4 linked regions of the Homo sapiens genome follow. The protein of the gene in region 3 purifies or fractionates together with the protein of the main gene of each other region. This does not show direct contact. Each region holds a gene or a part of one and is shown on either strand. Other genes may lie near its edges.

Region 1 (3,500 bases), on a different chromosome or scaffold from region 3:
AGAGGCGTGTAAGAGAGAGTGGTAGGCAGAGTAGGCAAGGACGTCAGAGGGCTGATGGGGCCATATCAGGTGGGGCCTTGAGGGCTGGCCATGGGGACTTTGCTTCTACCCTGAGTGAGATGGAGCTATGGATGTGAACTGATAGGGGTGTTCACGGGCTCCTTGGGAGGAGGGAAGGAGGGGCTGAGAGACCAGGGAGTAGGCTGCTGGGCTGGTCCAGGCAAGAGGTAACAGTGGACAGGACCAGGCGGAGTGAGAAGAGGTCAGATTTGGAATTATTGTGATCAGCAGACAGCTCTTACCTGGGGTGTGAGGGAAAGAGGAGCCCCAGAGGACTCCCCTGTTTTTGCAACTGGAAAGCAATGGTCAGCCATGGCAGGGTTTTGTCCTGGCATCAAGACAAGCGAGCCCTTGGCTGGGCACAATGGCTCATGCCTGTAATTCCAGCACTTTGGGAGGTGGAGGAGGGTGGATCACCTGAGGTCAGGAGTTTGAGACCAGCCTGGCCAACATGGCAAAACCCTGTCTGTACTAAAAATACAAAAATTAGTCAGGCCTGGTGGTGTGCACCTGTAATCCCAGCTACTGGGGAGGCTGAGGCAGGAGAATTGCTTGAACCCGGGAGGCAGAGGTTGCAGTGAGCCGAGATTGCGCCACTGCACTCAGCCTGGGTGACAAAGCGACACTCTGTCTCAAAAAAAAAAAAAAAAAGACAAGAGAGCCCAGGCTGATCCTGCCCTGTGTTCCCTCCAGCTTTCCTGCTCTGGGACCCTACCAAGGTGCCCCCACGACTGCAGGCTGTGACTGATGACCACATCCGGATGCACAAGGTGCTGCGGGAATCAGGCCTGAAGTACGTGGCTGTGATGCCGCCACACATAGGTAAGCAGGGCAGGGACCTGGTGGCACCAATGCCATCTGCCTGTTCCCTCCTGCCCTCTGGGGAGATCTGCAAGGCCTTCCCTGACCACCCTAAAATTGCAAACCTTCCTATGATATTGTGACATATATATTTGGCCTTTGTCCCTGTTTCCTGGCATACAACTCCTAAAATCCTTGGAATCTCCAAAATGGTAAATGTCTTTTTCTATGCTAATGAGTTCACTGAGAGCTGGCAGCCCCTAGGCAGCTTCAGGTCTGGTCACCAGAAAGACTAAGGCTGGATTACAGGGTTGGGACTTTCACCTCTGGGGAGTGGTGAGGGATTGAAGGTTGAGGGGATTACCACTGGCTAATGGTTTAATCCATTATGTCTATGGATTCTGGGGCTTCAGCCTCCTGAGTAGCTGGGATTACAGGCCTGCATCACCATGCCCCGCCATGGCTTACATTTCTAGTATGGGAGATAGAGATTAGATAGATAGATAGATAGATAGATAGATAGATAGATAGATAGATAGATACATAGGCCAGGCATGGTGGTTCACACCTGTAATCTCATCACTTTGGGAAGCCAAGACGGGAGGATTTCTTCAGCCCAGGAGTTTGAGACCAGCCTGGGCAACATAGACTTATCTCTACAAAAAAAAAAAAAAATTAGCTGGGCGTCGTGGCACACACCTGTGGTCCCAGCTACTGGGAGGCGGGAGGATGGCTTGAGCCCAGGAGATCAAGGCTGCAATAAACTGTTGCCCAGGCTGCTGTACTCCAGCCTGGGTAATAGAGTGAGACCCTGTCTAAAAAAAAAAAGAAAAAGACAAGAAAAGATAGATATTAATGGCCGGGTGCGGTGGCTCACGCCTGTAATCCCAGCACTTTGAGAGGCCGAGGCGGGCAGATCACAAGGTCAGGAGATCGAGACCATCCTGGCTAACATGGTGAAACCCCATTCTCCTGCCCAGCCTCCCGAGTAGCTGGGACTACAGGCGCCCGCCACCACACCTGGCTAATTTTTTGTATTTTTTAATACAGACGGGGTTTCACAGTGTTAGCCAGGATGGTCTCAATCTCCTGACCTTGTGATCCGCCCGCCTCGGCCTCCCAAAGTGCTGGGATTACAGGCGTGAGCCACTGCGCCTGGCTTTTTTTTTTTTTTTTTTTTTTTTTTTGAGACAGAGTCTTGCTCTGCCGCCAGGCTGGAGTACAGTGGTGCGATCTTGGCTCACTGCAACCTTTTGCCTCCTGGGTTCAAGTGATTCTCCTGCCTCAGCCCCCCGAATAGCTGGGACTACAGGCGCGTGCCACCACGCCCAGCTAATTTTTGTATTTTTAGTAGAGACGGGGTTTCACCATATTGGCCAAGATGGTCTCGATCTCTTGACCTCGTGATCTGCCCACCTTGGCCTCCCAAAGTGCTGGGATTACAGGCGTGAGCCACCACGCCCAGCCAAGTGTGTGAAAACTTCCACACCTCCCGATTTGAAAGCATTAAAGGTTTATGAATACACATAAGCCCTTTGTTTAGGTTCAATGCTTAGCATTTTATCCTGTTGTCTCTCCCTCTCTCCTCCTCTCTCTCTCTCCATGAATATATAGTTAGATTTTGCTGAATATATTGTGAAAACATATATGCATATGTATATTTGGCTTAATCATTTGAGAGGAATTGCAACATTGTCGCACTTAACTCCTAAATACCTAGACAGCCATCTCCTAAAAGAAAGATATTTGCACACAAAACATGCTCACACCTAAGGAAAGTGACATTTACTCTGTCATATCATTTAGTATCCACTCCGTAGTAAAATTTCCCCAACTGTCAGGCCAGCGTGGTGGCTCACATCTGTAATCCCAGCACTTTGGGAGGCTGAGGCGGGTGGATCTCTTGAGGTCAGGAGTTCAAAACCAGCCTGGCCAACGTGGTGAGACCCCGTCTCTACTAAAAATACAAAAATTAGCCAGGTGTGGTGGCGGACACCTGTAATCCCAGATACTCGGGAGGCTGAGGCACAAGAATTGCTTGAACCTGGGAGGTGGAGGTTGCAGTGAGCCAAGATTGCACCACTGTACTCCAGCCTGGGTGACAGAGCAAGACTCTATCCAAAAAAGAAAAAAAAAAATTCAACCCACTCTGCCCTTTTTCTTTAAGTTTCTCATAACATTAACCAGGCCAGGTGACTTTAAAGGCCCACATTCTGGATTTTTCTAGCTGTTTTGTCACAGATTCAGATTAAACATGTTGGGCAGGAATGCCACATGGGTGAAGGTGTGTGTTCCTTTTTTTTTTTTGAGACAGGGTCTCCCTCTGTAGCCCAGGCTGGAGCGCAATGGCACAATCTTGGCTCACTGCAACCTCCGCCTTCTGGGCTCAAGTGATTCTCCTGCCCAAGTAGCTGGGACTACAGGCATAAGCCACCACACTCAGCGAATTTTTGCATTTTTTGTAGAGATGTGGTTTTGCCATGTTGGCTGGTCTCAAACTCCTGAGCTCAAGTGATCCTCCCACCTTGGCCTCCCGAAGTGCTGAGATTACAGGCGTGAGCCACTGTGCCCAGCCAGGGCAGGAGCTTCCTGTCTGCTTTGTCCCAAGCAAACACACAGCCAAGGGTGTGTGTTCCATA
Region 2 (2,506 bases), on a different chromosome or scaffold from region 3:
AAAAATTGCATAACAATATCCCAATATTAAGGTCAGTCATGGCATAAAGTGAGGCAGCCTGGGAAGTGGCTGCTGAGAACAGCAGGGGCCGGGCTCGCAGCTGTGGCGCCCCCAACCCTGGTGGTGGCCAGTGCACATCGGCTCAAAGGTCCCACATCCTATGTGTGAGGTCACACTGGGGGTTCCTGACAATAATGAGATCGAGCTTTCAATTTTTAATGCAATATCCTGTCTACTCACTCCAATCTACCTCACAACCTTTAAAAGGACAACGTGTACCTTCCTTTTTTTATAGGCTGGGAAAACATTGAAAATTAACAAAGCTCATGACTGATTGTTTGACAACAGCTTAATTGCTAACATTGAAAGTCTGCTCTTACAGTTGAGGAAAAGTACAAGGTGTCTGTATACTGTTTCATGAGTAAGTTACAACAGCAATTAAAATAAACATAAGACACTTCATTTTTATGTAAGAAATTTCAGATTAGCATAATGTGATTTATGAACCATGACAATTCTCTTAATATATTACTCAGTTATAAAACATTTTTCCTTATAAGCCCTTCAACTTACTTCTCAATAATACATCCTTATATTTATGAAAATGTTAATATTTTGAATACTTTATTTCATCTTTCATAATGGGCAGAAACATACTAGCATTTAATAATATTTCAGCTTTTCTTTTCAAAAAGAAACACCACAAAATAGGTCACTGAGAACTTTTTGCTGCCAAGATGAAAATGATTATTTGTCACACGAATTTAATAAGTTTTAGAAGAAAATATATATATTTCCTTGATCTATTTCCTTCTGAATTTAAACCAGCATGTAAAGATTATAAAAAATAGTCTATTTACATGGCATAGTATACCTCAGTGATATATAAACAAGGCCATAATAAAGCACAGACACATCCGACTCCTACGGACACAGCTGAGCAGAGTCCACAGACACAAGAGCTACCGCCGCCCTACTGCACGTTGTAGGAACTGGCGAAATCCTAGAGGAAATCCAACACAGAAAATTCAATGATAATATTGGCCAAATTTGCCTGAAATGTCAACAATTTTATAAAACTATTAAGGTATGTATAACTAAATCCATGAAATTATAAAAATAACATTGGTACGTCTGTGAGAGGGTGTGTTCCGGGTAGAGGTGGAGAGCTACGCTGAAGAGGACGCCTCCTGCCTGCTGCGGCTATGTCATCGCCTGAGGCCTCGTCCCATCTTCCGTGAGGTCATACCTGAGAAAGACAGTGACAGGAAGGTGGTGACGGATACAGGACCAAGTAGGAAAAGCCTATCAGATACGTGTCGGGTTCCACCACTGTCTGTGGGGGACACTACCCACTGGGCGGGGAAAGCGTTTTTAGCTACACACTGGGGTTCTCTGTCTGCAGCAGGGACACTCACCACTGGGTCCAGCCTTTGGCAAGTTCTTCAGATGCCAGAGCAACCAATACCTGTGGGTTGTTAAAAAAGCAGTTAAAGTAGGCTGGGCTGGGGGCACTGGCTCCCGTCTGTAATCCCAGCACTTTGGGAGGCCAAGATGGGAGGATCTCTTAAGCCCAAGAGTTTGAGACCAGCCTGGGCAAGATAGTGAAACCTTGTCTCTATTAAAAGTAAAACAAATTTATCTGGGCGTGCTGACACGCACCTTGGTCCCAGCAACTCGGGAGGCTGAGACAGCAATTGCTGGAGCCCAGGCATTTGAAGCTGCAGTGAGCCATGATCGCGCCACTGGACTTCAGCCTGTGCTTCTACAGACCCTGTCTCTAAATAAATAAACAAATACATAAAGTAGGCTAAGACAATGTCTTTTAGATCTTTTACCACTTCTTCTCATCTCTCTAATCTTCTGTCTTCATCTAGGAATATGGACTCTCCCTTTTCTGAAGGCTCTTACTTTTTCAATCTTTTCTACCCCCCTGAGCACCTGTAAGCTACATCGCTGAATACATCTAAGAAATCCTTCATGCAACCAGCAGTCTTAAAATTCAGCTATGACGGAATATCAGCGGAGATGACTCACAGAAGGGTTGGCCCATGTGCCCTCCATGGCAGCACAGCTGACGAAATGATGCCCGTGACTCAAATCTCTTCCTCCCCAACTGAACCTACTCTCATTCCTAAATAACATACACTCACATGCCAAAGTGAAATGTGAAATACGGACAAAGAGTAGAAGAAATTCACATAAATAAAGCCAAAGAATTTTAGAAAAAGAGCAGAGCCATCAGTTGAGGAGATGGAATTGTAAGAGATTATTTTCCTTCAATGTGATACTTGAACAAAAATGTGAAGACTTAACTTAAAATATCTTCAGAAAGCACAGATGTTTTGACTGTCTTTATAGCCCATGATTTATAAACAAGCATCGACCTCGTAAGTTCGCCCCTTCCACTTACACAGACATGGTCTAAACACTGCACTGCAGGTAAATGTTCAATTTTACAAACTGCAGGAACTGGTTGAGGATTCGTTTGGCACTTACTTTGCCA
Region 3 (3,500 bases):
TCAAAATAAGCCATTCTGGTGTCAGGGAGCAGTTACTCTTCTAAAAATATGCTGGCAACTTTATTTCTATAAAACCTTCCAGCAAAAGAGGCTGTTATATGCTCTAAATATTTTCATTTTGTTTAACAGTTTTAGCTTACGGGGATGAGGCAACTTTCAAGAAGTTTTATGAAGTCAGACACAGAGGCACCAATTTACACATATTATATATAATCAGAATACACCAGAAAAAAACAAAACTCTCATGGTTCCTATACTAGGGAAAGGTTTCCTATTAAATAAGTGTTAGGCAATCAATTGCACACACTTCATAAAACTTCATAAGTAAACAATGGGATTAAACGTGACTGTATACTAGTAATTTCCAAGTCCTGGGTAAGAGATTCTGACATTTGAAATGTTTAAATAAACTGGTATACTTATATTATGAAATACAATGCAGTCATGAAAAAATGAGGTAGACCTATGTATACTAATACAGAATATACTCCAAAAGGCACTTTAACAAGGCTGCAAAATATACATGATTCCAATTATATTTTTCCTATAACAGTGAAAAAAACATGTATTTTAAATGACTATACATATGTAAACAAAGAGAAAAAGATGTAAAAAGACACACAGGTAGATCGGTGAAAGCCTTTGCTTTAATTGTTGGAATCTTTCCTGGTGAGATTAAATTACTTACGTAACTAATGCATTTTATGATACTAACAATGAAAATACAATACAATCATACACTGATGACAGGGATATGTTCTGAGAAATGCATCATTAGGTGATTTCGTTGTTGTTTGTACATCACAAGAGCGTACTTACAAAAACCTAGGTATATAGCCTACTACACACCTATGAGCTATACAGTTATATCCTATTATTCCAATGCTACAGACCTGTGCGGCATGTTACTATACCAAATACTGCACGCGACTGTAATACAACAATAAGTACTTGTGTATCTGAACATACTTAAATATAGAAAAGGTACAGTAAAAATACAGTGTAAAAGATAAAATATGGTACACCTGTATAGGGTACTTACAATGAATGGAGCTTACAGGACAAAGAGTTGCTCTGGGTCAATCAGTGAGCGAGTGACTGATGAGTGAAGGTGAAGGCCAAGGACACTACTGTCCACTACAATAGACTATTATAAACACTGTACACTTAGGTTACGCTAAATTAAAAAATTTTTCTCTTCATTAATAAATTAACCTTAGCTTACTGTAACTTTCTTACTTTATAAATTTTAAAATTTAACTTTACCCTTTTCTACTAACAGTTTAAAACAAAAGGACACTGTACAGCTGTGCAAAAATGTTTTTTCTTTATACCATTACTCTATAAGCTTCTATTTCTAATTTTTTAGTTTTTAAACTTCTTTGTTGAAATCTAAGACACACACACATTAGCCTAGGCCTACATAGGGTCAAGGTAATATCACTGTTTTTCACTGTCACATCTTTTTCCACTGAAAGGTCTTCAAGGGCAACAACATGCATGAAACTGTCATCTCCTATGACAACAATGCCTTCTTCTGGGATACCTCCTGAAGGACCTGCCTGAGGCTGTTTTACAGTCAACTTTTTTTAAGCAGAAGTAATATAATCTAAAACAATAAGAAGCATAGTAAATACATAAACCAGTAACATAATTGTTTATCAAGAATTATGTTATGTACTGCACGTAATTGTGCTGTATTTTTTTTTATGACTGGAAGGTTATATAAAACTAGATTGGTAATAGGTTGGTTTATACCAGCATCAACACCAACATGTGAGCAATATATTGTACTACCAAGTTAGGACAGTTGCAATGCCACTAAATAGGAATTTTTCAGCTCCACTGTAATCTTATGGGACCACCATCATACAGGCATATATGCAGACCACTGTTGACCAAAATGGTATGTGGTGTATGGCTGTACTTAGCTAACTTTAAAAGTTGTAAAAACTATTACCAGCTGGCTACTAATAAAACTTAGATGTATCATATGCATGAAACTAACCATCAATTTTTAAATGTTTATGTAAGCAAATGTTCTCAACTTTATTAGATTCTATAGTTTTCTAACTTGAGAGGATGACCATTATTTTAAATAATTTGGTATCCTCTCTAAATCACATTCTATAGATAGCTCAAGTCTTTAAATCCCTAGAGCAAAGTGTCTCTTTACACGTCAAAGCCAAGTGCAGGAGCAGAGGAAAGTGCTCTCTCCTCTCCTGCCAATGCAACATGAGCATAGTGGGTGCAGAGTGCATGGTAGCTATAGCAGTTACACTGGTTAAGGCCTTCACCCAATCGCCCGACCACCTGCAACCCAGACTGTAGCATTTCTACATCTTTCTGTTGAAACAGATGAGGAAGGTGATCCTCTGACAGATTAAGTGACTGAAATTTCAAAAATAAATAACACCTGTAGTTCCCAACATTGGTAAATCATTAGATTCACATGGGAAAATTAAAAAAAAAACCCAACACTTTTATTACAGATCATTTCAAACACAGGAAAAAGTTGAGAGAAGTATATAAAACTCATATACCCATCATCCAGCTTTAAACAATTAATTCATGGGCAATCCTGTTAAATTTATATTCTCCTCTGAAGCTTGTAATCTTCAGTATAACAGGGAAAACAGTCATCAATATTTTTATCATATAAGTCCAAAGAGGCTTTTTTATTTCCTTTATTTTCATGACACTTGAAGAATAATTTAGAGAGCAAAAAGACAGCAGGAAAAAAACTTTGTTAAAAATTTTCATAAGAAATAAATACAGCAAATCCGAATTTCAATTCCCAGTTTCCCTAAAGTCATGTACACCAAAAATGGGCACGACCTGAGTGCAAATAATTGCTTACTAACTTCATGTATGAATCTACAACATATCCATCTTGTAAATACCACTTCCAGATTTCAGATACATCTCAAATTGGTTACAGCTTGTCATTATTCCTGCTTTTTTTTTTTGCACTTGCGTCATTAAAACACAATGTTTGAAGGAATTTTTAAGCCTTTCATGGCTTATTTTGACGAAAAGAGGACAACAATCTTCTTTGCTCCATAATTTGTAACATATTTTCATTTTTAGATTACAAACAATTCAAATGGTCAACCCAATAATTCTTTTTTGCATTTTTTTTTCCAAATCACCTTTGTATACACATCTGCCCTTAGCATCTGTCCACTTACAAACAGTATCAAATAAATTAGGATGCAGACCTCATAAAAGATGAAAAAAATACTTAAAGTCTTAGGAAAGTCTTACTGGAATCCTAATTCCATCATAATTATTTTATTCTTTCGACCATAGTTGAGAATTGATGAGTAATACTAAAATAATGAAATAGGAGAATGTTTTGAGAAAGAACAATATGTGACCACTAAAATCCCAAAACGTATTTCAAAATTAAAAAATGTCCAATAGACCAATGTGGTAATTTCAAGATCAAATAAACTTTATGAGAAATATAGCTCAGTTTTCTTTATTCTTTTGAAGAT
Region 4 (3,987 bases), on a different chromosome or scaffold from region 3:
GACTTAGCCAGGACAGAATGGGCAAAGCGAAGGTCCTCCCACCTGGAAGCCCCAACAGCCCAACCCCTTGGAGAAAGGGGTTAGTGCCTGGTCTGCAAATCAAGGCCTTGAGTTCTAACTCCTCCTCACTCTGTGACCTTGGGCAAGGCGCTGTCCTTCTCTGGGCCTCAGGAGCCTTTTCTATAAAAAGAAATGATCGGACTGATCTAGCTCAGAGTGCTATGATTTCAGGACTACAGTCCCAAGGTTATCAGGCTCCCTTAGCATTTGGGGGTCTTGTAAGGCATGGAGTAAAAAAAAAAAAGCAATATCCTAAGGCTGGAGAAGAGGGAGGGGACAAAGGAAGGGGAGGAAAGGGGAGGTAGCAGGGAGCCAAGGACCAAGAAGGACTGAGGTACAGTCATTCTGCATCCAAAGGCTTAAATTGTAAGGGACTGGCTTTACTCTGGCTGTTTCCGGAAAGGCAGGCCCAGCCAGCCCTCCCGTCTCTCTCTCTGACAGCCAATCTCACATGTGCCTCCCTGGGAGCACCTGCTCTGAGCTGTATCAGCCCCCAGCAGGCCGCTGATTACCACTGAGCCTGGCCACAGAGCACGAGATTAGGATGCAGCAACACACTGTGTGTGAGATCACGTCCCGAACCTTCTGACTCATCTGCACAGGAAACCCCCCCAGTCTCCCCTCCAGTCAGAAGGGACCTGAAATTCCACCAGTGGCAATACCAAAGAAACTTCCTATTAGCTAAGCCCCTAGGGAGTGATTGGCTGTTGGGGCGGGGAGGGGGGGCGGTGAGGAGGATGAGGATGAAGCCTGGGCAACCTGGATGTGAGGCTGTGCAGGGGATGAGGACAAGGATCCTTGGGGTGAAGGAAGAGAAGAGCAATTTTAGGTTTTGCTAATTTTGTAACCCTGGCTCCAAGCCAGCCCTTACAGGAAGTCACCCTGGCCTCCGGCTCAATTCAGCACGTGATAGGGAAGCCACATTTATGCAGAGCAGGGAACGAGGTAAGGAAATGGAAGTGGGGCTGTGGTGAAGTGGGCAAGTCTAGAGAGAGTCCCGCTGCCTGGGGCTGTTCCTAACAGCTGCTGGGAGCGAGCTGCAGGTGTGGTGCCTGGCAGGGTGGCCGGGCTGTCTGACTCTGGATTTCACTCCAAGCTAGGCTGCTGCCTGAAGGATTCCTCTTACCCACCTTTGCCTGGGCTGGCCTTTGGGACTTACATGGCTATGAGGCGTGCCACGGTGGTCTTGAACCGGTCAAAGATGTAGCCAGTGGGGAATGTCATGAAGTTGTTCATGAAGGACCCCAGGGTGAAGATGAGTGAGAACCTCTCATCCTGGGCTTTGCAGTCTGGAGTAGAAAAAAGGTCTCCCATGCATCCCAGCCTTCCTGCCAAATGAGCACACAGGCTGGGCTCCCCTCCACCTCAGACAGCTTGTCGGTCGCAAACTTGTCCCTTAAGCTGAGTTGAAATGTGGCTGCCCCTAATTACCCCTCAGGAGCTGGTGCCTCCCTCCCAGGCACTTCCCAGATCAAGTGGGGTGAGAGCTGCTGACCCTTCCTCTCATCATAGAAAGAGGGGTGGGCAGGGGGCAGAGTCCTTCCTGCTCCTTGCCACCACGTGGGAGCCAGACTTAACTTCCTTAGAAAAGTCATCCCTGCCCTTACCAGCCTGCCCTGTGGCATTGCCAATCGGCCCAGCATCTGGTCCACACAGATCCTTAAAGTAATCTTCATTCTTGAAGACAAACACTAGTGAAGGCCAGCCAAAGAGGACGCCAGCAAAGCCCAGGCATTCCAGCAGCCCAGTCAGCAGTGTGGCCACGTGCAGGGGCAGGCCCTGGCCCGCCATGAGCAGAAGTGGAGTGGATCTTCAAATCCCACTTTGTCCTCCTGGACGGATCACAGGCGCCGTAAGCCTGGCGTTTGAGCACTTGGAAAATTCCTCTGGCAAGCCAAGCCCTTCCTTTCCCGTAGCTCTCTGGTTGTTTCAGGCCTGGGCAAAAACCATCAGCGGGTGATTCTCTGGATCCTGTAGAATAAAGATAGAGGCTGCTGGAAGAGGAGGCCTGCGGGAAAGGGAAAGGTAGACTAGAGTTATTTGTGAGGTGCATTAAGAGGCAGGATGATCATGGCCGCTGGCAGCAAATGTGGGGAATAAATACTCCAATACATCATCTTAGGCACTGCATTTGAGTAACCACGTGGCAAGTAGAGAGGCAGGTCTTGATGGCCACCTGGAGTCACAGGTGAGATAAACGACTTACCCAATAGCTCCCCGGGAGCAGGTGGAGAAGCGGAGCTCCTGCGCTCGAATTCTGAATACCGTCCCCTAAAATAATGACAGCAACTCAACCAGGTGCAGAGGCAGGGAGATTTCATACAGAAGACACAAACTCCCGCTGCCAAGTTGGTGTTATCTTCAGTTTACTGACAATGAAACAAAAGCTCCCATGGATTTCAGGAACTTGCCCAAGGTCACAGGGCTAGTTTAGTCACGACGCAGGCCATTCTACTGCCAGAAATACCCCCAACTCCCATGACCCTCGCCTAGGACTCGCAAACCTGGTCCCCGCCGCCCTTCCTCGCATCAACTTCTACCAGGAAAGCCTCCGGGGGCCGCTCCCCGCCAGCCTCCGCACCCCGCTCCAGCCTGCGGCCTGCCCTCCCCGCAGAGGAGCCCGAGGGGCCAGGCCGCGCTCGGCGCCCCATGGCGCCCGAAAGGGGACCCTTCGCCCTACCCGCCTGCTCCGCGCCGGGGCTCTCCGCGCCCTTTCCGCACGGGCCAGGTTCGCATTCGCGCCTCTCGCAGCCCCTCCCAGTCCCCTGCTCGCCTCCGCCCCCTCCTGCCCGCCCGGAAGGGGCTGGGGCAGACCTCCCACTCTCCATCACTTCCTTCTTCTTTTCCCTTGCTCACAGCCTCCCGCGCCCTTTTTACCTCTCCCTCTTGAAACTTCTCCCTCTAGAACCCCCTAGAACCCCAGCGGTGTCTTTCCCTCCCTCCTCGCTGCCTTTCAGCCTCCCAGCCCCCTTGCCTCTGCCTCCCCTAACCAAGTTAGTTGAATGCTGTTACTCGCTCAGGCCCACCTAGGGAAAATGTCACACCCAGCACCCAGAGGACACACAGACAGCACATGAGGGCATAGGGACACACACACTCTATTTGTGCATTTTGCCTTGACCGCTGGGTTGGCAGGGAACATATTTTTCCTATTTGCTCACCAGCTTAACCGTCTCTCCCAGTTTCACACTCCCAGAGCTGCCAAAAAAATCCCAACCACAGAATCAGGAAGCCAAGAACCAGGACTGAGGGCTTTTCAGAAACCATCCCCTGGAGGACTGCCCCATATTTTCACTCCCAAAAACCCCTTAGATGACTCCCTGCCTCACCCCCGCCCCCCAGGTTCTGAAAGAGCCTTCCCGCCAGACTGCATTGATTAACCATTCATTGCCCCATTTTTTATTAATCAAAGACATATATAATTGCTCATCGGAGCTTGTGATCAGCGTGAGGCCTTACTAAGCAGCTGCCTTACTATCCTTCCAGCCCAGAGCACGTGAGCTGACGTCTTCTTTGGCCTGTGTGGCCGTTTCCTTGCCAAAAGCTCAGTTTGGGGAGAGCTTCTTGCGTATTAGATGCAGTCTGCAGACTCCCAACCCCAGCTACCTGGATCCCCTGAGGGCCCAGGAACTCCAGCTATTCCAAGCCCACTCCTCTTTTTTTTAAGAGGAAGAAATAGAGGTTACGATAGGGGACAGCCAGAACTGAGGATTTTCCAGCTCACCACCAAAGCACAAAAGATAAAAGTCTGCAACCACCCTAGTGACTTGACTGAATGGAGGAAGGGTGGCTGGGGTCCTGTACCCCAAGCTACTCACTAGTTATACAACCTGAGGCAAGCTCTTTGGCTGCCCCACCTGTAAGACGAGGACAATAGTACCTTAATTATAGGAATTGTCATAAAAGAAGTATAAGATGGGTGTATGA

What was found. Proteins that work in one complex are often made in the same cells at the same time.
Region 1: the proteins of ARL6IP6 (region 3) and BLVRB purify together in Homo sapiens (affinity purification with mass spectrometry; 2 studies listed by BioGRID and IntAct, with this or other methods). This does not show direct contact.
Region 2: the proteins of ARL6IP6 (region 3) and ESYT2 purify together in Homo sapiens (affinity purification with mass spectrometry; one large-scale study listed by BioGRID and IntAct). This does not show direct contact.
Region 4: the proteins of ARL6IP6 (region 3) and SLC43A3 purify together in Homo sapiens (affinity purification with mass spectrometry; one large-scale study listed by BioGRID and IntAct). This does not show direct contact.

The regions. Positions count from the first base shown.
Region 1 is NC_000019.10:40,448,746-40,452,245, reverse strand, and holds part of BLVRB (flavin reductase (NADPH)), read left to right. Parts: intron 1-753; coding exon 754-882; intron 883-3,500. UniProt on the Homo sapiens protein: Enzyme that can both act as a NAD(P)H-dependent reductase and a S-nitroso-CoA-dependent nitrosyltransferase. Promotes fetal heme degradation during development.
Region 2 is NC_000007.14:158,733,004-158,735,509, forward strand, and holds part of ESYT2 (extended synaptotagmin-2), read right to left. Parts: coding exon 2,500-2,506; intron 1,469-2,499; coding exon 1,419-1,468; intron 1,250-1,418; coding exon 1,204-1,249; 3' UTR 1-1,203. UniProt on the Homo sapiens protein: Tethers the endoplasmic reticulum to the cell membrane and promotes the formation of appositions between the endoplasmic reticulum and the cell membrane. Binds glycerophospholipids in a barrel-like domain and may play a role in cellular lipid transport.
Region 3 is NC_000002.12:152,725,120-152,728,619, reverse strand, and holds part of ARL6IP6 (ADP-ribosylation factor-like protein 6-interacting protein 6), read right to left. Parts: intron 1-3,500.
Region 4 is NC_000011.10:57,424,322-57,428,308, forward strand, and holds the start of SLC43A3 (equilibrative nucleobase transporter 1), read right to left. Parts: upstream 2,801-3,987; 5' UTR 2,741-2,800; exon of another isoform or gene 2,565-2,740; intron 2,332-2,564; 5' UTR 2,267-2,331; intron 2,069-2,266; exon of another isoform or gene 2,032-2,068; 5' UTR 1,852-2,031; coding exon 1,668-1,851; intron 1,389-1,667; coding exon of another isoform or gene 1,350-1,388; coding exon 1,220-1,349; intron 1-1,219. UniProt on the Homo sapiens protein: Sodium-independent purine-selective nucleobase transporter which mediates the equilibrative transport of extracellular purine nucleobases such as adenine, guanine and hypoxanthine.